Regions from separate parts of the Homo sapiens genome. Here regions 1 and 2 are each reported to be linked to region 3. Evidence: microRNA targets listed by miRTarBase, many of them from high-throughput screens and not tested one by one. Region 3 holds a microRNA gene; each other region holds the end of a gene's coding sequence.

Region 1 (7,759 bases), not on the chromosome of region 3:
CCAGGCTGGGGAGGTCATCATCGGCCCAATCTTTCTTTTCAAAAAGGTCAAATTGACTTACTTATCTAGGGAGAAATGGGGCCCTCCTGCCTAGGTGAGAAACTAGAGCTGGGCTTCTTCACCAGATAAACCGTCTTGGTACGGTGATGCCTGGAGACTGGTAGAGGCAACCATGGGCTCCAGCAGCATAAATGCTTTCAGGCAACAGGCTGAAACACCTTTCCAGAATCCCAGCTACACACCTGACCGAGCACAGTGGCTGATGCCTATAATCCCAGCACTTTGGGAGCCTGAGTTGGAGATGACCCTGGGCAACAAAGGGAGCCACCCCGTATCTACAAAAAAATATAAGGAGCCGGGCACAGTGGCTCACACCTGTAATCGCAACACTTTGGGAGGCTAAGGAGGGCGGATTACCTGAGGTCAGGAGTTCAACACCAGCCTGGCCAACATGGTGAAACAAAAGTCTCTACTAAAAATACAAAAATTAGCTGGGCGTGGTGGCAGGTGCCTATAATCACACCTACTTGGGAGGCTGAGACAGGAGTATTGCTTGAACCTGGGAGGTAGAGTCTGCAGTGAGCTGAGATCGCACCACTGCACTCCAGCCTGGGCAACAATGAGCAAAACTCCATCTCAAAAAAAAAAAAAAAAAATTAGTTGGGCATGGTGGTGCACACCTGTAGTCCCAGCTACTTGGGAGGCCCAGGCAGAAGAATCACTTGAACCTGGGAGGTGGAGGTTGCAGTGAGCTGAACTCCAGCCTGGGAAACATAGTGAGACTCCGTCTCTAAATAAATAAATACACTGTCACTGCATGCTTCCGGGGGTCACATTCACATAGTCTAGATGGTGCCTCCTAGAGTTGCATGCAAACAATGGGGCTGTTAACCCCATACTCTGCAAGCCTTGCACACCTGGACCTTATTCAGTGCTAGTCATAACTTGCAGAATTCAGGCCATGTTCTGCAATAAAAGTGTGAGCTGCACTCCCCAAGGATCTACCTCAGCCCAGGAATCATTCACTCTGGAGGAAGCGCTGTACTTTACTAATGTCTAGCTCCGCTTTTGGGCCGACTGCAGATCTTATCTGACACAGGCAGAAGACAGCTTCCTTTCACAGGGGTGGCATGAGGCATAAAGGAGTCAAAACACTTTCACAAAAGAACACCCTCGGCCAGGCACAGTGGCTCACGCCTGTAATCCCAGCACTTTGGGAGGTTGAGGCGAGCGGATCACAAGATCAGGAGTTCAAGACCAGCCTGACCAACATGGCGAAACCCCGTCTCTACTAAAAATACAAAAATTACCTGGGCATGGTGGCGCACACCTGTAGTCCCAGCTTCTCATGGGGCTGAGGCAGGAGAATCACTTGAACCCGGGAGGTGGAGGTTGCAGTGAGCTAAGATCGTGCCACTGCCCGCCTGAACGACAGAGCAAGAGACTATCTCAAGGAAAAAAAAGCACCCCCATCCTGGCTAACATGGTGAAACCCCATCTCTACTAAAAATACAAAAATTAGCCAGGCATGGCGGCGGGCGCCTGTAGTCCCAGCTACTCAGGAGGCTGAGGCAGGAGAATGGTGTGAACCCAGGAGGTGGAGCCTGCAGTGAGCCTAGATTGCGCCACTGCACTCCAGCCTGGGCGACAGAGTGAGACTCCGTCTGAAAAAAAATAAAAAAACAAAAGCACCCTACAGAAAAGGGTGTGCTCAAGAAAGAAGGCTGGTGCTTTAGCTCCGTCAGCATTCAGGAAGCCACCTGCGGACTCTTGCCGCCAAGGGTCTGATTCTACCCTCCCTGAATCCCCCATCTTGTGGAATCTATATGTGTATATATATAATCTATATATATATTATATAATTATATATATAGATATTATATGTATACATATAGATATTATAATTATATATATATATACACACATATATATATAATCTTTTTTTTGAGACAGAGTCTCACTCTTTTTGCCCAGGCTGGAGTGCAGTGGCACGATTTCAGCTCACCGCAACCTCTGCCTCCCGGGTTCACAAGCGATTCTCCTGCCTCAGCCTCCCGAGTAGCTGGGATTACAGGCCCCTGCCACCATGCCTGGCTAATTTTTGTATCTTTAGTAGAGACGGGATTTCACCATGTTGGCCAGGCTGGTCTCAAACTCCTGACCTTAGGTGATCTGGCTGGCCTTCACTTCCCAAAGTGCTGGGATTACAGAGGTGAGCCACTGTGCCAAGCCTCAATTTTCTTTTCTCTTTTTTTTTTTTACGGAGTTTTTTCTCGTCATCCAGGCTGGAGTGCAGTGGCGCGATCTTGGCTCACTGCAACCTCTGCCTCCCAGGTTCAAGTGATTCTCGTGCCTCAGCCTCCTGAGTAGCTGGGACTACAGGCGCCCGCTGCCATGCCTGGCTAATTTTTGTATTTTTAGTAGAGACGGGTTTTCACCATGTTGGCCAGGCTGGTCTCGAACTCCTGACCTTAGGTGATCCAGCTGGCCTCAGCCTCCCAAAGTGCTGGGATTACAGGTGTGAGCCACCACACCCGGCCTCAGTTTTCTTTTTTTAAAAAAATAGTTTTTTCATTTAGAGATGGGGGTCTCACTCCTGTCACCCAGATACTGGCACTGCAGCCGTAAACTCTCGGGCTTGAGGAATCCTACCACTTCAGCCTCCCAAGCAGCTGGGACTACAGGTATGTGCCATCACACCCAACTTTTGTTTTTTTTTTTTTTTTTTTTTGAGACTGAGTTTCACTCGTTGCCCAGGCTGGAGTGCAATGGCGCGATCTCGGCTCACCACAACCTCCGCCTCCGAGGTTCAAGCAACTCTCCTGCCTCAGCCTCCCGAGTAGCTGGGATTACAGGCATGCGCCACCATGCCCAGCTAATTTTGTATTTTTAATAGAGACAAGGTTTCTCCATGTTGGTCAGGCCGGTCTTGAACTCCCGACCTCAGGTGATCCGCCTGCCTCGGCCTCCCAAAGTGCTGGGATTACAGGCGTGAGCCACTGTACCCGGACTACACACCCAACTTTTTACAATTTTTGAAGACACAGGGTCTCACCCCTGGGCACAAGCAATCCACTTCAGCCACCCAGAGCTAGGATTACAGGCATGAGCCACCGCACCCAGCCAGAATCAACTTTTCCTTCCATTACATCTTAGCTCAAACCCAAGCTCAACAGAAGAGGAGGGTAACTTAATTCATTTTTTTTTTTTTTTTCCTGAGACGGGAGTCTCACTGTCGCCCAGGCTGGAGTGCAGTGGCATAATCTCGGCTCACTGCAACCTCCGCCTCCCAGGTTCAAGCGATTCTCCTGTCTCACCCTCCTGAGTAGCTGGAATTACAGGCGCGTGGTACCACGCCCAGCTAATTTTTGTATTGTTAGTAGAGACTGGGTTTCCCCGTGTTTGTCAGGTTGGTCTTGAACTCCTGACCTCAGATGATCCACCTGCTTTGGCCTCCCAAAGTGCTGGGATTACAGGCATGAGCCACTGTGCCTGGCTGCAATCACTTAGTGTTTTTTTTTTTTCCTCTGCAGACAAAAAAATAAAGTTATCCAAAATTCAACATAAGAAAACTGTAATCACCAAGAGGAGCCAGTTACATTGCAGATAACAGTGCCTATCACCTTCACCTCTGTCAGAGGCCCTCAGAATTTCCAAAGTGTTGGAAGTGGAAGAAGGCAGGTTTGAAGTTTTAGGTTGGGTTATTAGCAAACCAGATCCCCATTTCTTGGCTGGGCATGGTGGTTCACGCCTGTAATCTCAGCACTTTGGGAGGCCGAGGCAGGTGTATCACTTGAGGTCGGGAGTTCGAGACCAGCCTGGCCAACATGGTGAAACCCCATCTCTACTAATAATACAAAAAATTAGCTGAGCGTGGTGGCAGGCACCTGTAATCCCAGCTACTCAGGAGGCTGAGACAGGAGAATCCTTTGAACCTGGGAAGTGGAGGTTGCAGTGAGCCGAGATCGTGCCACTGGACTCCAGCCTGGGCGACAGAGCAAGACTTCGCCTCAAACAAAACAAAACAACCAGATCGCCATTTCTCAATGACTTATGGCCCTTGGAATGCAAGTGGCAGGACCTTTTGGGCCTCCAGTGAGGGACAGCAAACCACACTTATCCTCAAACTTCACAGTAAGCCCACAGCAGCCCTGCCCAGGGAGAGGGCCTGTCAGCCGGGTACCCTGTGTCCAGGGTTTCATTGAAGAACTGTCTACAATCACCATAGCACCTGGCCTTAAATAATGGATTTGGAGACGGCTTCTGGGTGGGATGCATATTACAGGGGTACCCCTTTTAAAAATTAGGAATTACTCCTATGAAGTGAGGTATGTTAGAAACTGTTAAGAAAAAGTTACCTCAAACATTCACAGCACTAAACGAATAGAACAAGGTCAGAAAGCGAGGTTTTCTTATTTTTACTGGTTTATAATAATCTTAAAAACCCCATCACACCCATAAACCACCACAGGTGAGGTGAGAGAGATGGAGAATGAATGCTACAGTATGTGGATAGAATGGGGAATCCAGGTATTCCCTAGGGTAGTGTAGGATGGAGACAGGGAGTGTGGAGAGGAGGCCCTGGCTTGGACCCTTATTGCTGGCTGGGGGTTGGCTGGCAGAGGGGAGAGGGACTCAGGCTGAACTCCGAAAGAAGGAACATCTCACACCAAAGGCGAGGGCAGTTGGGGGCAGGGGGATCACAGTACATTTTCCATGCAGACTAAGGGTGGGAGTGAGAGCTTCAGAGGCTTGCACCCCTACACAGGAAGAGATGGGTTTGAGGTTGTTTGACTTAAAGCCCCCAAGTTGGTGTCTGGTCCAGTTTCCTAAAATAGCAGCTCACCTTTCAGGGAGAGGTATTGGGGAGGAAAAAAAAATACAGCAAGAATATCTGCTTTGGAGATCAAGCAAGGGGTAGGGGGAAGACAGTGGTGCTCTTTAAATCTGACTCAGAAAAGCAGGAACTGGAAGAGGGCCCTGGGTGAGATGGCGGCCAACACCTTCGGAGAAGGCATTGAGTCAGAAGCTACAGGTGCTCCTGGGGGATCAGGACAGGGAGGTACCAGTGTTCACAGACGGCAGGAAAACAATTGGGAACAATAAATTAGGACTTCATGTTGCTATCATTTGGCATAACACAATCAGGCTTTTTTTTTTTTCTTTTTCCTTTTAAATATAAGGCAACTTGCCAACACATAACTTAAAACTGGTCTTCAGTCACATTGCTTCAGATCACTAGAGAATTTCTGGCTAACGAACAGTAGTGGATAGTGAACAAAATGCAAAACCTTAAATAAGAACCATCAGCTGACATTCCCCAGAGACAAGAGGAAAGGTAAGGGCTTATTTCATCTGTAAAAAATAAAAAAGCCCAATTCTGCATCTTTAACAGAATGGTGCAAAAATTTGTAACAAAACAGTCTAAGTTTAAAATTACAGAAAAGTGTTTCTAGCCAACTAATTGTCGCTTGGGATGAGACGTGCTGAGCATGGAGTGGATGAAGGTATGCTCTAAGAATGGACAGAGGGCAGGAGGGGCTTGTTTCCAATGTAGGCCCAGCTCCAGGTGTTAGAACCATGCTCATTTGGTAAAGGAAGTACTCAAAGAGCTTAAGGCTTTGTGTTTGTTTTTTTTTCCTTCATTAAACTGAGGGGCTGCACTAGAGGGTGAATGTACCTGTGGGGCCACTCACACACAATGCTACTCAAACCCACACTACATTCATACAGAAACGTAACGTTTAAAACTTACAGTGTAGAGCAATATTCTTAGCCAGTGTAGAGAGAACCAAATGCATTTTTTTTTTTTTGGTGTTTTTAATCCCAAACTCCAATGTGATCATTCCTTACCTACCTAATTCCTCAAGTAAGGTAGATTTTGTTTTTGTTGAGGGGGAAAGGATAGGGGCTGTGGGGAGGTGAGTTAGGGGACAGGCAACAGTGAGAAAGGGATCTTGGGTATGCTCAAAGGTCACTGTATTTTTCTAGGTTTGGAAAGGGGAGTCTGGAACCAAGATGCCAATACAAAGACTTTTTCCCCCCATATCTCAAGAAATGGTCAAATACTTCCAAGATGCCCTTGAGATCAAGTGTGGCAAGGGCAAGTGCAGTGGCTGTGGGATCAATATAGACACAAAACAAAGCCTTGAGGAATGGAAAGGAACTTGAAGGATATGAAGACTGGGTCAGCTTTGATTTGAGATCCTTCGATGAGTAAGTAATTAGCTTTCAGAGCACCTGGGAAATCTTGCTTCTTAGTCCTGGAGGGAGGGGAAGGGGGGTAGCAACAGGTAGAGGTCTGGATTAGGGGCCTGAGCACCTATACTACCTCAACTAGGGCATTCCGTCAGCCCACACCTCAGTCGTCCTAAGGGAAACAGGAAGAGATTCAAGAAAAGATGGGTGGGAGCTGGCTGGAAATGGCCAAGGTGGAGAGACTAGCTGACAGGCAGTCAGTGGAGAGAAAAGCCTGGGCTTAGGGTTAGGTTCTAACATAAAACCAAAAGTTGCTGGAGGGGAGGACGAGAGGACCCCTTCTGTCCCCACTTAGATCCCACCAAATTCCCTTTCTTAGACATCTAAGAATGATCACACTGGAGCAGTGAAACTTTGAAACTATCCAGTTACTTAAAAGACTAAACCTAGGAGGGTGATGTATGATGTGTTGCACGTGGAGGGCAGCAGGGCTACCTATCTATACCCTGGGTGCTGAATATGAAGACTTCGACTCTCTGTGGGATCGGGGGCTCGGTTGCCAGGGGCTCGGTGGGCCTTGCTCAGCATGGCCAGGCTCTGTTCTCGGAAGCAGGCCTGTTGGAAATCCCCACTTAGGTAATCCACTGTTTGCATCAAGCTGTTCTGGCTTGCCACTGGACCGCCCCCGGTCCCTGCTCGGTAGTGGGCCCCGGGAGCTGCCGCACAGTCGAGGGGTGCACCTGTGGGCTGCCCACCGTGGAACGGCATGGCAAGGTCCTGAGACCCCGAGCTGTCGCTATTGGGAGTGGGCAGAATGTTGTTCCACAGGGGTTGGAAGTAGTGACCATTGGGGTAGGCCAATGGGGCTGCCATGCCGTTGACTGGTGGGGATGGGGTCGGCTTTTCCAGGGGTGGCTTCAGATGGAAGGACTGCGCCAGGCAGAGTTCCTGCGGGTAGGCAGGGGCCTTGCCCACAAAGCCAGGCCCTGCCAACTCGCGTCCTGCCGCATGCTTGCCTGTCAGGCCAGGGGCTGGCGTCCCACTAGCCTCGCTGCACATCTGCTGTAGGTGGGCCAGCTGGTGCTGGTTCCAGGTGACTGGCTTGAGGTCGCTAGGGTAGCCAGTGGGGACGCGAGAGATGCCTGTGGGCAGGTTGACAGGACCTGCAGCAGGCAACGCGGCGGTGGCCGCGTGGGTGTGCTCCATGGGATTGACCACACATGAAGGCATTGGTGTGGGGACGCTGTGGGTCGACACCCGGGTGCTTGCATTGATGAGCAGACTGCGACTAATGGGGCTGGGGTTGGCGATCTGGCCCTCACACACTGAGGTAGTGCTGATGCCTGCCCTCGTCTGGCAAAACTGGTTGATCTGGTGCACGATGCTACTCAGGTCCGGAGGCTGGCTGTGCTGCAGAGTGGCCGCCATTGAAAGGGGGATAGTTGAGGTAGACACGGTCACATTCGGGGGGGCATCTGAGTCTGGCATCTTCCGGCCTCCATGCAGCAAGGGATTGTGGGGGTGCTGGAGACCCTGGTGAGCCAGGGCCTGAGGGTGGACC
Region 2 (7,759 bases), not on the chromosome of region 3:
CTATGTGTCAGACAGAGGAGTCTGAGGGTGGCACTGGGGGAAGCTGGGAGGGTTGGAGGGGAAAGGGGACAGGAAGGTTGGCCCCATCCAGTCAGCTGTGGTAGGAGATATCACTGACACATGGGCCTCCTGAGGAAGGTCTAGCAAGTGGCAGGGGTGGGGCCCATTTAAGCACACCTCACTTATGAAGCCCCATCACAAGTGATAGTGTGGCCATCATCCCAGTCCATGTGTCTTAGGAGCTGGAGTTAAGGCCTTGGGGACTAGCTGGGCAGATGGCAGAGCGAAATGCAGGGCCAGGCCACCTACTTCCTTCCAGAGGAGCCTCCCTCAGGCCACTTTCCTAGAAGACTCTCAGGGACAACCCATGGGAGCGGCTCCAAGAGAACCAGCCCAGCCCCCAGTCCCAGGTCATGGCCTGGCAGCAGCGGGCGCTGAGCTAGGAGGAGCTTCTGTGTGGCCTTGGGCTTGCCACTTTGTCTCTGTGTCTGTTTCCTCGTTGATAAAATGGGCTTACTGGCCATGGTGCAGATGACCCAAGAGGATGCAGGTGACACCCGTGACAGCAGTCGTTAACGCACATGGCAGTGGTAGGACTAGCCATGATCACAGGCATTACAGTAGTTCATGTTTGTTGACCCCTCACTTGGCTCAGGTCCTTATGAGACCACTGTGCATAAATAGGCCCATTTTATAGATGAGGAAACAGACACGGGTGTCCAGTGCCTTGGGGCTAAAGTGTGCAGAGCCCTCTCCACAGCAGTGCTGTTGACCTCTATTCCAAGTTGCTGCCCTACCCACACTGGGCTTGGCCAGGTCCCTCAGGGGTCGGGCAAGACCAGCCAGCCACCATGCTGCCCTCTGTGCCCCAGCCCCACCTGCCCACCCATGTGGGAAGGCTCCTTGAAGGAGGCACCTCCCTGACCCATGCCAATGTGTTTCAGACGAAGCCCGCTCCAAGAAGTGTGGTGTCCTGGTGCACTGCCTGGCAGGCATCAGCCGCTCAGTGACGGTCACTGTGGCCTATCTGATGCAGAAGATGAACCTGTCACTCAACGACGCCTACGACTTTGTCAAGAGGAAAAAGTCCAACATCTCGCCCAACTTCAACTTCATGGGGCAGCTGCTGGACTTTGAGCGGACGCTGGGGCTAAGCAGCCCGTGCGACAACCACGCGTCGAGTGAGCAGCTCTACTTTTCCACGCCCACCAACCACAACCTGTTCCCACTCAATACGCTGGAGTCCACGTGAGGCCTGGTGCACGGGGGGCATGGCACCAGGCCCCTGCTCGGCTCTCCACAGGGCTAGGTGGGAGAGCCCAAGCCCGCCACCTCTGGCCTGAGGAACCCCCAGATGTCACCTGTGCCCAGAGGCCCAGGCTGATCGGTGTCGGAGCGCCCCTCACCATCCTTGGGGGCAGGGCCCGCAGGCAAGGTCTCCCACTGCAGGGCTTGCTGGAGAGGCCTCGGCTCTTGGACACGTGGCTTTGGGCGTCCACCAGGGCCTCATCCTGTCCAGGACGCTCCTTTCTGCTGACAGCCCAGCCAGTTTGGCTGTTTTTTAAAGACACATCCACGGACCTGAGTTTACTTTTTACTTTTGGCAGGTAAATCCAAGCTCCCTGGAGCACAAAGAGTGTTTGAGCTCTTCTTGATTTTTCTTTTTTTTTTTTTTTTTTAACAAAAAGTGTTATTTTCAGGCTACATGCAACAGTGGATTGTATAACCCAGTATTTCATCCCTTTCCTGATCCTGCAAGAGAGAGAAATGTTCAGTTTTGTTTTTCGTTCAATTTCAAAAAGCAAGTATCGTGTTTGTTTTTGTTTTTGTTTTTTAATGGAAAAGACAGACGCCATGTTGACCTTGACCAAATGCGTTTTGCACATGTGTGAAGCCTCTGTTTCCTCAGCGGGCCCTTCTTGAAGGGGTGGCTTACTGCTCTTCAGGTATTGGGACCCCCAGTCGTGCCGCCTCCCACCCTTGGCCCAGTCTGACTTAGCTCTGCATTCGCCTGTGATGACTGCTGCAAGTTGTGATTGGTGGGCTGGATGGTGGTCTTTGCATTTTCTGCCGTCTCATCCATCCCTCTGGTGGTCCCTGCAGACCTCCCTGAGGCAGAAGGTGGGGACCCTGGGGCCCTGCCGCTGTCCCCCAGGAGGTGGGCCGCAGGGGGCTGCCAGGCAGTAGCATTAGCCCTCTGGGGTCAGCCCCTAAGAAGGCCTGGGCTCTGAGCCCTTTTATATACTTAGCCACTACTTCTGTCTGTCTGTCTGTCTCTCTCTCTTCCTCTCCCTCTCTCTCTTTCTCTCTCTCCCTCTCTCTCTCTTTCTTTCTCTCTCCCCCCCTCCCTCTCTCTTCCTTTCCTCTCTCTTGTTGTAACTGGGAGTGGAGGCCCAGTGGCTGGGGAGACATTAGGTGGTGGGGCCCAGCCCGACCTCCAGGTTCTTCCTTCTCCCTAGCTGTTGCTTTGGTCTGGCCACTCCCAGCCCCCTTGTCCCCTTGGAAGCTTGCCCTGCCCTCATCTTGCCCATGCCTTCTACTGCCAGGAGACTTGCACCCATTTCAACCCTAGGGCGGGGGCAAGTGGGGCAAGGATGGACCAGCAGAAGGGGGGTAAGGCTCTGTTCACTTCCCCCTGCCTCCACAGAACGAAGCCACGGATTCCGTTATCTTCCTCCAGTTTTGTTCCTTCTCCAGCCTCAGTTCCACCAGGTGTCAGGACTGCATGGGGGCCTGGGGCAGGCAGAGGAGTCAGGCCAGGGTCCCTGACGGAGCAGCACTCAGCATGTGAGTGAGGCCACAGAAAAACTCTGCCCCACTGCTTCTTACCTCACGGGGGTGGCTTTCAGGGATTCTTTAGCGCAGCAGATTAAAATCTTGCCACAGTCGAGAAATTGACAACAAGCTTCCATGCTGTACATGGTTCTCTTTTTCTCTCTTTTATTTTTAAAAAGAAAACCCAGAAAGATGTACCAGATTTGTGTAAATGAGGGTATGCCAGAAGGTGGCCAGTTTTGCTTTATGATCTTATGAAGGAAGATTTGTGACCCTACGTATATATATACACACACATACATATATATATATATCCCGAACCAACAACGGGACTTTGTTTATATTGCAAATAAATATTATTTTTTCTTTAAAATGAGTCGTGTCCGATAAGGGCTTGGGGCCTGGGAAGGAGGGGAAGGAGTGCTGTCGACAGGCATCCTAGTGCCTGCTCTGTGTGAGGCACTGGCCTGGTTCTGCTTGGGGTCTGCTGGCCACTTAGACTAATCAAGGTGCCCCGCAGATGGGAGGGAGCAGCCACAGTTTCTGGATGAAGCTGGGGCAGGTGGCATTTCCCCAGCCCTTAGGCACTGGCAGGCAGAGGCATCAGGGCTTTCTCTGTGGGCTTCTGCTGAAATCAAGGCTTGGAGAGGTTGTATATACCAAGTTGACACAACTGAGTCCTGACTCGCCCTTCATTGTCTGAGGCTGTCTGCTTAGGCATTGCCCAGATTGCAGCCCCCAGGACCCTAACTCTTTCTCTTGCTGCCGTGTGGGTGAGAGGGGAATGTGCATTTAACCCTGCCCCTGCAGGTCCTGAGATATCAGTGGGTAGTGACAGGTCAGCCCTTCTTTGCTTCTTAAGGGCTGGGTGGCCTTGGACAGGTCCCTTAGGCCGATTGCACCTGGTTCCTGAGTGCTTTTCAGCTTTGTGGCATGAAGAGCACATTATTGGCCTGGGCTCACAGGGAGGAATCAGCCGTGCTCAGGCGTGTACAAGGAAGGGTGGGCATGGGCCTCTGTCAAGGCTCCCCTGGGGGTGGGGGTCTAAGCGAGGCCCTGGGCTAGAGCAGGGAGGAGGTCTGGAGAAGGATGGGGGCCACAGTCTGGGGAAGTGAGGCCCCAGTGGACAACAAGCCCCGAGTTACAGATCAGGAAATGGAGGCTCCAGAGTGGCTTAGGTCTCCCTTGCCTCTGGCTGGATCAGGTGAGCCCCAGTCAAGGACTTAAGAGGCCTGGAAGCTGACTCAGTTTCCCCATTTCTGACATTCCCCAGCTCTATCCCTTCAGCAAACTGTGTGATCAGCACTGAGCTGGATCCAGGTGGAAGGTAGGTAGGTAGGGCCGAGAGGGTGAGGGCGGCTCAGCCTGGGACTTGCTCTGTTGGGGTGCCCAAGGCTCTCCTTCTCTTCTCTCCCTCATCTCTGCTCTTCAGTTAGTCTGCACCAGAACGCAGTCACAACCATCATGCGCAGCCTGTGGAGAGGGGTAGAGGGCAGGTTCTGCCCACTGTGGGGCCTGGGTGCAAATCTCAGCTGTGTGACTGCAGTCCCTCAGTTCTACCCCCTAACACTCCCATGTGGAGCGTGGAAGAATCCTGCCGCTCAGCCGGCAGGCCTCTGTGGGTAGGAGGGGGCTTCTTGCTGCATCCTCGACAAGGGGGCGGTGCTGCTGTTGCTCCTGGGCTCCCTCAGGGCCCTGTTCCTTCTGTGCCAGGGGCAGGCAAAGGGGGTGGGGGCCTGAGCAGGCAGAGACTGGGCCTTTGTTCCCTCCTGCTGCCCTCGCCCAGGCCTGGGGAAGCCCGCGGGTGCTGGGCTGGGGGCTGGGCCCTCGACAAACCGAGTAAGTGCCTGGCAGTGCCAGCGTGCCCAAGCACAGGACGGGGTGGGGGTGGGAGTGGCAGCCGCCTCCTGAGCCGGCTCTTCAGACGGAGGACTGGGACTGCCTGAAGAGGGCCAGCCCCGCCACTTACCCCTGTGCACTCTGGGGCCAGTGGTCTCTCTGACCGTCTGTGTCCTCCTTACCTGTAGAAATTCCTACCTCAGCACTGGGCCTGGCTAAGGTTCCCTGCTGGGGGACAGAGGGCCAGGTCATGGCTGAGAGGCTGGGGCCCTGGGTCCTTGCTCTGTGACCTTGGGCCGGGCCACGCTTACTGGACTGTGGTCCCCCACCCCTGGGTTTTGGGCTCCCATCTCATGGCCCCGTGTCCTGAGCTCCTCCTATCCCACCCCGTTTCTGCCATGCTCTCCCCAGCGGGCCCTGCTTGCTTCAGGCCATCTGTGGCTGAGGCCCTCAGCGCAGCCGTCCTGAGCTCTTGGACACTTGGCTCTCTGGGGGTGCACCTGCTTTATCTCTGTCCCCAGTCCTGTTGCTCTCTTGAGCCTGTTTGCCTCCTTGGTCCCTGTTTCTGCCTCCGTTTCAGCCTGGACCCCGGGGAGCTGGTCCACTCCTTAGCCGCTTAGTGTTCCCATGGGAGGAGGATCCAAGACACTTACTCACTTGCACATTCATCCAGCAGCCATTTCCTGTGCCGGCTGGGCAGTCCCAGGGAGGGAACATGCCCGAGGGAAGCTCGGTGATGTCACACTGGGTGGCAGGATAATGGGGCCCTCAACTTGTCCTCTGATAAATGAATCAAGTGCAACATGAGGACTGACTAAGGCTGGATACGAGGAAGCACTTGGAGTGCTGTGGAGCGATGACCTTGAAGGGGTTCCGACAAGACCGCAGGAGAGATGAACATTTCCCTAGGGTGGTCCCGCTCTGAGCCTGGGGGCAGAGGGAGCCCTCAGGAGAGGGCCCTGCTCTGCCTGCCACCCCCACAGGGCCCCTCCCCAGAGGAAAGTCATTCCTCATGAATGGACCAGGGTGGGGGTAGGTGGCAAGCCTGCACTGGAGCCTGCCCCTCCCTGCTACTGCCCATGTGCTGTGCACCTGGGCCAACAGCATGACTGCACTGTACCTCCCTCTGTGTCAGAATGGATGTGTCTGGGACACCAACACCTACCCCCAGATCCTTGGCAGAAGCCAGAGGGCCTGATATGGGAGCCAGCTTTCTCTGTAGGGAGCACAGTAGCATGTTAACCTCTGGGTGCCCCGATGGAGGGTGTTCAGGTCCTGATCCTTGACATCTTTTCCCCTGCTTTCTTTGGGCCCCACCAGGACACAGTGCTCTCACCTGACTCCTGAGACCCAGCCTACCTGAGAGCCCTGGGAAGGCTCGGGAATCACTCTGCTTCCCAGCCCTGTGCTGATGGGGAAGGTGAGGTTTGCAGAGGGGTGTCATAGAGTGAGGCAAGGTAGAAGCTGGGCCCCCCACCCTGCTGCCCTGAGGCTTTTCACTAGGCCCTGGCTCTGTGAGGGACCAGACACACACACACACACACACACACACACACACACACACACACACACACACACACACACACACACACACACAGCTTTGCCATCCTCTGACTAGACAAGCCCATGCAGGTCTCATAGCAATGGAGGAGCCGCCTGCCTGTGACTGTAGCCTCCTCTCATCAGGGTGTGTCCTGGGTGAAGTCATCCCTTTCCAGGCATGGTCATTAAAGACTATCATTAGCAACTCTTAGAGGCCTTGGCCCCATTGTCTCTGGCTGGGTCAGATGAGCCCCCACAGGTGACCGTGACACAGACTCCGGCCCCTTGCTAGAACCTCTCTTTGCCCAGGCAGCCAGCCCCCTTCCCAGGGCTGTCCTATCGCACACTTCCAGGGGCCATTGTCTGCCGTGTAGCTTCCGTGCATGTGTGGGGTCTCCACACGCCTCCCTCCATGCCTTCAACTCCTCCTCTGGCCTCAGGGCTGCAGGCAGAGGAGAAGCTGCAGTGCCTTTCCACAGGGCGTCATGGGCCAGGGAGGAGCCTCTTTAGGGGACAGGGGAGCCCCTAGAGGGCATCAGGCACAGGGCTGATGGGGTCTGGCTGTCACAATGAAGATCTAGTTGGTGAGTGAGAGCGGCCTGAAAGGCAAGCGCGCAGGCCAGGGGACAGGGAGGAGGCCAGGACAGTAGTTGAGGGTGGGTCAGGAGTGCTGGAGAGGGTGTGGGAAGGACACATCTGCAGACCAGCAGGACTTGGGCCCCATGGGAATCAAGACCCATGGTGTGAACAGAGGGTCCCAGCTTGTCTGATGCCACATCCACAGCCTGAAAGCCAGCCGCTGTGCCTCGCAGAAGGATTAAGCTTAGCCCGGGCATGCGTGGGCCCACGGGACCCCGAGCCCCCACTCACCTCCCCTGAGGGAAGCTTGCCTCACCCTCATTGTGCCACCACATGCTAGGCGCCCAGGGAGAGCCAAGGGGCCCCAAGATCCTTAAGCGTCCTGGAAGTCCCCCAGGACAGCACAGCCCTGACGGCCCATCTCAGAGCCTCCGTTTCCTCATCTGTACAGTGGGGATAAGAATTGCCAATTCAAGAGGAGAGAGCAGGATGAAGGGCCTGTTGCCCACCTAGACCTCTGGAACAGGAGCCCAGGTGAGTTCATTTAGCTGTGGCATCCCCACCGCTGCTGAGGGGCACCTCTCCGGCCCAACTATTGTCAATTTGCTGTGTGATCTCGGACAAGCCTCCTCCCCCGTTCAGTTCTCCAATTCCCTGTTTCCACTGATGAGAGATAGAATAATGACCCTGAGGTATCTGGCCCTCAGATTCAGCACCACACCCCTTTGAGCCTGCCTCTGGTCCCCCAATTCGCATGCCCCAAACCTAGTTCTCTCCTCACCCCACAGAACCTAGCATGGGGGCTTGGGATGAGGCTCCCGGTGGAGGAACTACAGGAGCAAAGGCCCAGCTCACACTTCTCCCCAGACCACTGGCACCAGGCCCCTGCAGCCCTATTCCCTAGCCGCTGGGAGAGAGGCAGGCTGGATACCACTGTCCCTCCCCGGTTGCTGGGACTCAGGTGGTCTCACCAGCACCTCTGGGCAGGGAGTCTGGGTGTGGTTCTTCTGCATCTCAGATTCTT
Region 3 (7,759 bases):
GGCCGGCGGGGTGGTAGCACAGGAGGGGTTCGCAGGCTCTGCGGCCGTGCGTGGCGGGGCGTGGGGGCCCGCAGGGCGGAAGTAGCTCGGAGAGACGGGCTGGGGCAGGGCGTGCGTTCGTGCGGTCAAAATCCACTGGTGGCGTTTGGGGTGTTCCCGTGGACGCGGCCTCCCGGCAGGCGGACCTCCACCGGGTGGGCGCGGCAGGCGGGCTGTGCGGGCAGGAAGAGCGACGAGCTTGAGAGTGGGAGATGGGGTGCAACGGCGGGCCTCTCCGGGGAGGTGACACTGCCGCTGAGACCCGAATGGAAGGGCGCGCCCGGCGGGGGAACAGCAGGCGCCGAGGTTCGCTGGAAGCAGGGAAGGGAGGCCCGGGTACCGGCTCGCAGGCCCGCGCGAGCTTCGCGGCAGCGGCACGGAGCGTGTGAACGGCGCAGCGCCGAGGCTTCATCCATCGGCCGGTGCAGGGTCCGGGCAGGGAGCACTGTCGACCAGGGTCCGACCCTGGGAGAGTCCAGAGGTGGCGCCTCTGGCAGGGACAGAGGAGGGGGTGACGCTGTAGGGGTGCAGGCAGGAGGCTCCGCGTCAACTCCCCACACTGACGGGGCGGATTTTTTTTTTTTTTTGACAGAGTCTCGCACTGTTGCCCAGGCTGGAGTGCAGCGGCGCGATCTCGGCTCACTGCAACCTCCGCCTCCCGGGTTCAAGCGATTCTCCTGCCTCAGCCTCCCGAGTAGCTGGGATTACAGGCGCACACTACCACACCCGGCTAATTTTTTTTGTATTTTTCTGGTAGAGACAGGGTTTCACTATGTTGGCCAGACTGGTCGAGAACTCCTGACCTCGTGATCCGCTCCTAGGTTCGCCTTGGCCTCCCAAAGTGCTCGCTCCTGGGCGTCCCAAAGTGCTGGGATTACAGGCGTGAGCCACCGCCCCCGGCCGAGGGCGGGTTTTGTTCTCTGCTGTGCCTGTCAGGCAGTCGTTGCCCTGTGGTTATTTGTGGAGGGATTGACGGTGCGCTGAGCTTCAGACTTTGTCTGAACAGCTTCGTGGCAGCAAGGAAGGGAGAAGGGAACAGATCCAAGCCGATCTTTGGGAGGAGAGAACCAGCATGACTTGGAGACTTTAGATGTCAGAGCAAAGGACAGGGTGCAGCTTGGTGACCCGGAGTGGGTGGGTGGGTGAATGGATGGATAGATAGTGGGGATGTGGTCTGCCATCACTGCCCTCTTCCCTGTGTGGGAAGCCAGCTCTTGGTGACTTCCTGCCGAGACCCACTCCCTCTGGCCCTGTCCGAGGGTGTCAAGTGTGCCCTTGACCCTTCACCCTGGGCTAAGGGATGTCCAAGGAGTTGGGGACAAAGGCAGCTAGGAGGAGGAGCTACCTCCCGAGTCTGCTGCAGTAAGTCACCAGTGTGTTCCTGTGGGTGGAGGCTGGCAGGCCCATCAGTCTGGTTTGGGTACCCGTTGGATTTGGGTTTGATGACATGTAAAGTGAGTTAGAGTCTCTGCATTACTGTCACACCTGCTGTGCCCAGGCATGGAAGATTAAGTGGAACAGAGGGGCCGCCCCCCTGCTGAAGGGGCCCCAGAGTCGGCGCTAGGGGAGGGGGCAGCCTCGGTGGTCCAGGCAGGCATAGGCGGAATTCTCTGAGGTGGCATTGGAGTCCAGTGGTCAGAGGTGCTAAAAGGCCCCAAACCTAGAGCCCATGCCCAGGGCCCCACTGACACCTGGTGGGCAGGGGCAGCCTGGTGACCCCACATGACATGGGTGGGCGTGACGCAGCACCAGCTGGGCCGACAGCCCTCCCCCTGCTGGTTTTTAATGCTCTGCAGTAATGTCATTTGGCCTGCGAATAAGCTTTCACACATTTTATATTAAATCTACAAGTATGATTTATTCAGGCACTTACGAATTTAATCAAATTTGTTTCTAAATATTACTGATTTTTGTTATCAAATGTGCCATCAGCTGTTGAGCTTTGAGAATTGAGCATCCTGGCTTTTGCCATTTTGAGGATCAGCAGAAGCATGTCTGGAAGAAATGTGAGAAAATAAAACTCAGGAGCCTACCCCCACCCTGCCCTTCCAGGAGCTCAGCCCCAGAGCCAGGCTGCTAAGGCCATGGAGGCTGAGGGCAGTGGAGCTGGGGTTTCTGGAGCCTCAGGGGCCCTGGTTTGCTGGAAGGGCAGGCAGGGCTTCATGGAGGGCATTAGGCAGTGGCCAGAGCCCTGCAGTGCTGGGCATGGGCTTCTCGTGGGCTCTGGCCACGGCCCTGAGCTCCTCCCCTTACCTTCCCAGAGCGGAGGGTCACCTGCTGAGCTGGGCACGGGCTTCTCGTGGGCTCTGGCCACGGCCCTGAGCTCCTCCCCTTGCCTTCCCAGAGCGGAGGGTCACCTGCTGACAGTTTGGGGCGGCTCTGTCTTTGAGAGCATGCCCTCATGAAGGCAGAATGTCCTCCCTGCCTCCATCCTCTGTGGCCCGGTGGCTCCTGCAGTGCCTGCCCTCAGAGGCTGGTGGCCTGGGACACAGGGATGAGGATGGGCTTGGTGGTGCTGCAGGTCACAGTGGGTCATGAAGGAGCTTTGGGGGTGTTGCATTCTCTGGTAAAGCACAGCAAGGGAGCCCTTTTACCCACTACTAAAACCTGGCTCTGCACTGAGGCCATGCGCAGCCCAGTCAGGTGGACGAGGGGGTAACGACTGGACCGTGGGGAGGCATCAGAGGAGGAGCTGCTGAGAGGCGGGTCACCACAGCCTGGTGCCTGTCTGGAGAGGGTGGGGCTGGGGGAGGTGCTGGCCAGGTCCATGGGGGTGGCCAGGCTGGGTCTGAAAGGGCCTTGCGCTGGTGTGGGGTGAGCTTGGTCTGTTGGGAGAGTATGCAGTTCATTGGGGCCTCCCTGGCTCCAGGTTTGCATGTCTGAGGAGTGGGTATCATCAGGGCCTGGGGCCTCTCCAGTGGGCATGTCTGAACTCTCCCAGGGTTGGGAGCCTGTGCTCATCACAAGCTCAAAGCACTCCATTTCTGCTACCATGAAGTCAAGGATGGTGACTGTGAGCCGCCTGGGACCTGAGCTGCCTGGGACTGTGACTGAGGCACCCGGGGTGCCTCTTAGGGCCTTGGGTTTGGGCCCATGGCTAGATGAGCCTTGGTGATTCTGTGGTATTGCCTGGGCCAGGTGGACCCAGGGGCAGCTGCGGCTAGTCCATTTGGAGCTCCTTCAAGCCGAAGCATCCAACACCAGTGTCTGTGAGGTGTGGGCCCGGCCCCAGGAGCGGGGCCTGGGCAGCCCCGTGTGTTGAGGAAGGAAGGCAGGGCCCCCGCTCCCCGGGCCTGACCCCACTGCTTCAGCCCCCTCCTGCCTGCCTACAGCCTGGCCTCGAGGGCCCATCAGGTGAGGGGACCCCACCTGCACCACCCCGTCCTACCTCCTGGAGGAGGCCTTGCCCCTGACAGGCAGCCTCCAGCCCTCCCACCCTGATCCCTGTGTGGGATGGCCAGAGCATGCCCAGCATGCTGGGGTTCGGCGGTGGGGGGCATCTGGAGGGAGGGACATGTCAGTTCGGGGAGGGATGAGCAGCCTAAGTGACTGCAGTGCTGGGCCATCTCCTGCATGGTGGAGCTCCCCTCGAGCCGCCTGTCTGCAGGGGGCTCTGGCCAGTAGTGCAGCCGGGCAGGGTCTGTACGGCACAGGCTGCACCAGCCTCCATGCAGACCAGTCTGTGTGGGAGTGGGGGTCTCAGAGGGCCCAGCCGGCCTATGCCATGAGCATGGTGCTGGCCCAGAGGGGGAGCTGAACAGCAGCTGGGTCGGTGCGTTACCTGGTGGGGCAGCAGACAGCAGCTGCCCTGGCTGGGGTTCAAGCCCCGGGCTGGCCTGGTGGAATCCCCTCTCCGTCACCCCCAGGTTCTGTTCTTGCAGGTGTCAGGCCTGGGGCCTTGAGACAGACCTGCAGTCTCCACCACAGCCACAGTGGGTGGGGTCTGGGTCCTCACGGAGGTGATCCTCCACCCCCACACCTACCTTGTGCATGGCAGTGGTGTCTCCTGGAGCTGGTGAGACCCCACCTCACTCAGGAAACCCCCCAGACGCCCCCAGGCAGAAGTGGCCATACTCCAGGGCCTGCATCCCTGTGCCCCACAGTGCGCCCTGGCCGGTTGGTTGTAGGAACTCAGAAAAGCAAAGCAAACAGGATGGTTCCCTGCTGGACACATTACATTCCCTGCTGGACACATTTCTATTGCAGATCTTTAGTCCAGGATTCCAGGGTAGCCAAGGTCACCTGAGTCCTGGGGACTCTGGGCCTGGTCTCTGAAAGCAGCCAGTAAGACAGAGATGGGAAACCCAGCAAGATGGAGTGAGCCAAGGGCACAGTTGGGTCCAGGCGCAGCAGGGAGCTGCCTGGGGGTGACACACACTTGACGGAGGCCACTGCACACACCCTACCCCGGCCTGAACTTGAGCACTTCCTTTTTTTTTTTTTTTTTAGATGGAGTCTCACTGTAGTCCAGATGGAGTGCAATGGCGTGATCTCGGCTCACTGCAAGCTCCGCCTCCCCGGTTCACGCCATTCTCTTGCCTCAGCCTCCTGAGTAGCTGGGACTACAGGTGCCCGCCACCACACCCGGCTAATTTTTTTGTATTTTTAGTAGAGACGGGGTTTCACCGTGTTAGCCAGGATGGTCTTGATTTTTCGACTTCATGATCCGCCTGCCTCGGCCTCCCAAAGTGCTGGGATTACAGGCGTGAGCCACCATGCCCGGCCAAGCACTTCCTTGAACACAGAGGTGACCATGAGGAGGGAGGCGTGAACCAGGATGACGGGGCAGCAGATGGAGCCTGCCTCCCTGAGACCTCAGGTGACCGAGTGCTGGACTGCCTCCTCCTGCCTACATGGCTGAGAAATAAACTTCTTTTTCAAACCACTGTGACCTGGGGTTTTCTGATACCCTCAGCAAGCCTGTTCCTGTGGCCTGGTGTGGGTCCCCTGACCTGTGGCCTGGGCTGCCTGTATCCGGCCTGCCCCTCTGCTCCGCTGTAAACCTGTGATGGCAGTGGAGGGGCTTGGCCTGGGCCCGCCCCACCGCGAGGTCTTCCCCTCTCCGAGTTCTGGGTGTGGTTTCAGTTGAGCCACGCCGTTGGACTGGGCCGGCCTGGAGGACAGAAGGCACAGGCTCTTCCACATACCTGGCTCGTGGCCCATGGGCCGTCTGCTCACGGGAGCCCTGCACCAGGCCATGCAGAGCAGTGAAGTCAAAACCTCGTTTCCCAGGTCTAAGGTGAACTGGGAGCAGGGCAGGAGTTGGCTCTGTCAGATGCCACAGTTGTTTGGGGACAGTGTCCGTAGAGAATGTGTGGCCCCCCTCCGTGGTCTAGGGTGGAGCGTGGATAGGCCGGTCACTCCTATCCCTGGGCCCAAGGCTCTTTTCCCCTGCCCTCCCGTGGGCTGGGAACTGCCACAGCTCAGACAAAAATCGGCCAGGGCAGGGTCCTGAGGCTTCAGTCCCAGGCTCCTTAGGGCACCCCTGGTGACCCAGCTCCAGCACTGAGTTTCCAGAGGCCTTGAGGATTTCCCTGGGATGCCAGATGGGCCCTTCCTGCTGCTCCTGGGGTCATCTAAGCTCCAGGCTTGGGTGCAGCCCTGGGCCCCTGCCACAGACGCCCTGAATGCACCTGCCCCTCCCGGTCCCCACGCAGCAGCCTCCTGAGCTGCGGATCATTTTCCTAAGAAGGCATTCTACTTGTGCCAGTCCTTACTTAAAGACCCCTGCTGGTGCTGGCAGCGTGCTACCGGGAAGGATGGTATCTCCTGTGCGTGTCCTGTGTACGCTGGCCTCACACGTGTGTGCCTCATGCGGGCTGTGCCCTCAGTCCTATACGCTCTCCCCAACCCTCTTTTAGGGTGTCACAGGAGAAAAATGACACATTCCTAAATCTCTAACACATGGGCTTGAAAACAAGTCTGAGGATGCCCTGCAGAAGGGCCATGGGCATGGACATGGAGCTGGGTGGCCTCGTGCACTGACCTTTCCCTCTTCCTAGCCCCAGGCCCGACCTAGAGGCCACAGCCCCTGCGGACAGGCTGTGGGGCCAGAAGGGCCCACTTCAGAACTTTTCTCGTGGGCAGTGTTTAGGCCACAGCCACCCATGTGTAGGGGTGGCTACACATGGGTGGCTGTGGCCTAAACACTGCCCAAACACGTTATATTTTTTATAACATGGAACTAGATGGCAGAAGTTTAAAGGGAATAAAAGAGCTACTGGAGACGATTTGCAGCTTTCATAAATTTCCAGAGACTGATAAAAACACAGACTTGAAATTGTCCCAAATGAGCCAAAGTGATGAAAACAAGTCTTTTCTAAAACTCTGAATTCTAAGGGAATGTAAAATGCAGAAGTTCAAATCGGGTTTAGAAAACCATAAGAAATAATAGTGCATTCGCCGGGCATGGTGGCTCACGCCTGTGATCCCAGCACTTTGGGAGGCCAAGGCAGGTGGATCACTTGAGGTCAGGGGTTTGGCAGCAGCCTGGCCAACATGAGACCTCGTCTATACTAAAAATAAAATTTAGCCATGCATGGTGGCGCATGCCCTTAGTCCCAGCCACTCCGGAGGCTGGGGTGGGAGGATTGCATGAGCCCAGGTGTTTGAGGCTGCAGTGAGCTGTGATACCACCACTGCACTCCACGCTGGGCAGCAGAGCAAGATCCTGTCTCCAAAAGACAAAACACAAAACAGTGCATAAAAAGGGGCCAGGCACGGTGGCTTATGGCTGTAATCCCAGTACTTTGGGAGTCTGAGGTGGGTGGATCACTTCAGGTCAGGAGTTCGAGACCAGGCTGACCAAGATGGTGAAACCCCGTCTCTACTAAAAACACAAAAATTAGCTGGGTGTGGTGGCGCGTGCCTGTTGTCCCAGCTACTCGGGAGGCAGAGGCAGGAGAATGGCTTGAACCCGGGAGGCAGAAGTTGCAGTGAGCCAAGATTGCGCCACTGCACTCCAGCCTGGGCAACAAAGCAAGACTCCATAAATAACTAAAAAGGGAGCTGATGAGGAGTTATTTCTGGGAAATGGCAAATGCCCACGGGTGACCCTGATGCCAGCAGCTTCTCTCCCACCAGACCTGTGCTTCCCACACAGCCCCACCTGCTCTTGTCTTTAGACTAAGAGCCTGTCACCGGGCGTTGATCTAGCCGGCTTTTTCCTTTGTGTTATGGGCCTGTTCCTTCACCTCAGTGTATTCTCTGCGTGTGCTCCCTTCTGGGAAAAGCAACGTCCCACGTTTGTGTGATTGAAATGTGAAAGGAGAGCCTCATGTCTAGATTGTGGGCGAGTGATTGAGCCCTGTGACCGCTCGCGCGTGTGACCCACAGACTGTGACTGTGTCCCCTCAGCATTTATTTTCTGGATGGTCACAACGTATTCAATGTGTCCTTGAGACAGCCACCCAGCCCTTAGGGTGGTCCCTGCGTGTCCTGGGGCGGGCGACTTCCTGAGGGTGCAGTGCTGGAAACAGAGACTGCTTCGAGCCTGGCCACCTTCCCTCCTGTGCCGGCTGCTTCTAGGAGATGCTGTGGGACGGTGCCCGGCTTCGCGGTGACTACCATGCCCTAAGGAGCAGAGCCTCCAGGATGCCCCCGGGCTGCGCTGGACGCTAAGACCCCAGCACCTAATCACAGTCAGCAGCTTCCCTCCACTGACAGTGATCTGCATGGTCCATTCCTGGCGGCCTGGGGGCCTCGCTACAGTTCAACCTGG

The links. The annotated mature microRNA hsa-miR-3677-5p reads CAGUGGCCAGAGCCCUGCAGUG and lies in region 3 at 2,217-2,238, shown strand. An mRNA with a match to its seed (bases 2 to 7 or 8) in the 3' UTR can be bound and repressed. Matches are read on the target gene's strand: a 7mer-m8 pairs with bases 2 to 8, a 7mer-A1 pairs with bases 2 to 7 and ends in A, and an 8mer does both.
Region 1: miRTarBase lists FAM222B as a target of hsa-miR-3677-5p. The part of its 3' UTR that is shown has no 7-base or 8-base seed match.
Region 2: miRTarBase lists DUSP7 as a target of hsa-miR-3677-5p. Seed matches in the 3' UTR shown: 7mer-A1 at 2,249-2,255 and 7mer-m8 at 2,475-2,481.

The regions. Positions count from the first base shown.
Region 1 is chr17:28,751,577-28,759,335 of GRCh38, forward strand. It overlaps FAM222B (family with sequence similarity 222 member B), which reads right to left. Exons shown (of 3, transcript NM_001077498.3): 3 at 4,404-7,759. The coding sequence ends at 6,694. Among named protein-coding and RNA genes, the nearest start is that of TRAF4, 11 kb to the left of the region's middle.
Region 2 is chr3:52,044,308-52,052,066 of GRCh38, reverse strand. DUSP7 (dual specificity phosphatase 7) reads left to right here. Exons shown (of 3, transcript NM_001947.4): 3 at 945-3,148. The coding sequence ends at 1,252. It overlaps LOC124906238 (a long non-coding RNA gene), which reads right to left and starts at 5,838. Exons shown (of 2, transcript XR_007095908.1): 1 at 4,745-5,838; 2 at 3,109-4,248. RefSeq lists an enhancer at 4,548-5,747.
Region 3 is chr16:2,268,499-2,276,257 of GRCh38, forward strand. It overlaps MIR3677 (microRNA 3677), which reads left to right and starts at 2,215; the gene lies at 2,215-2,274. ABCA3 (ATP binding cassette subfamily A member 3) reads right to left here. Exons shown (of 33, transcript NM_001089.3): 33 at 7,383-7,759. It overlaps MIR3677HG (MIR3677 and MIR940 host gene), which reads left to right and starts at 165. Exons shown (of 3, transcript NR_132988.1): 1 at 165-345; 2 at 3,178-3,393; 3 at 4,489-4,574. It overlaps MIR940 (microRNA 940), which reads left to right and starts at 3,249; the gene lies at 3,249-3,342. It also overlaps MIR4717. RefSeq lists a silencer at 1-275.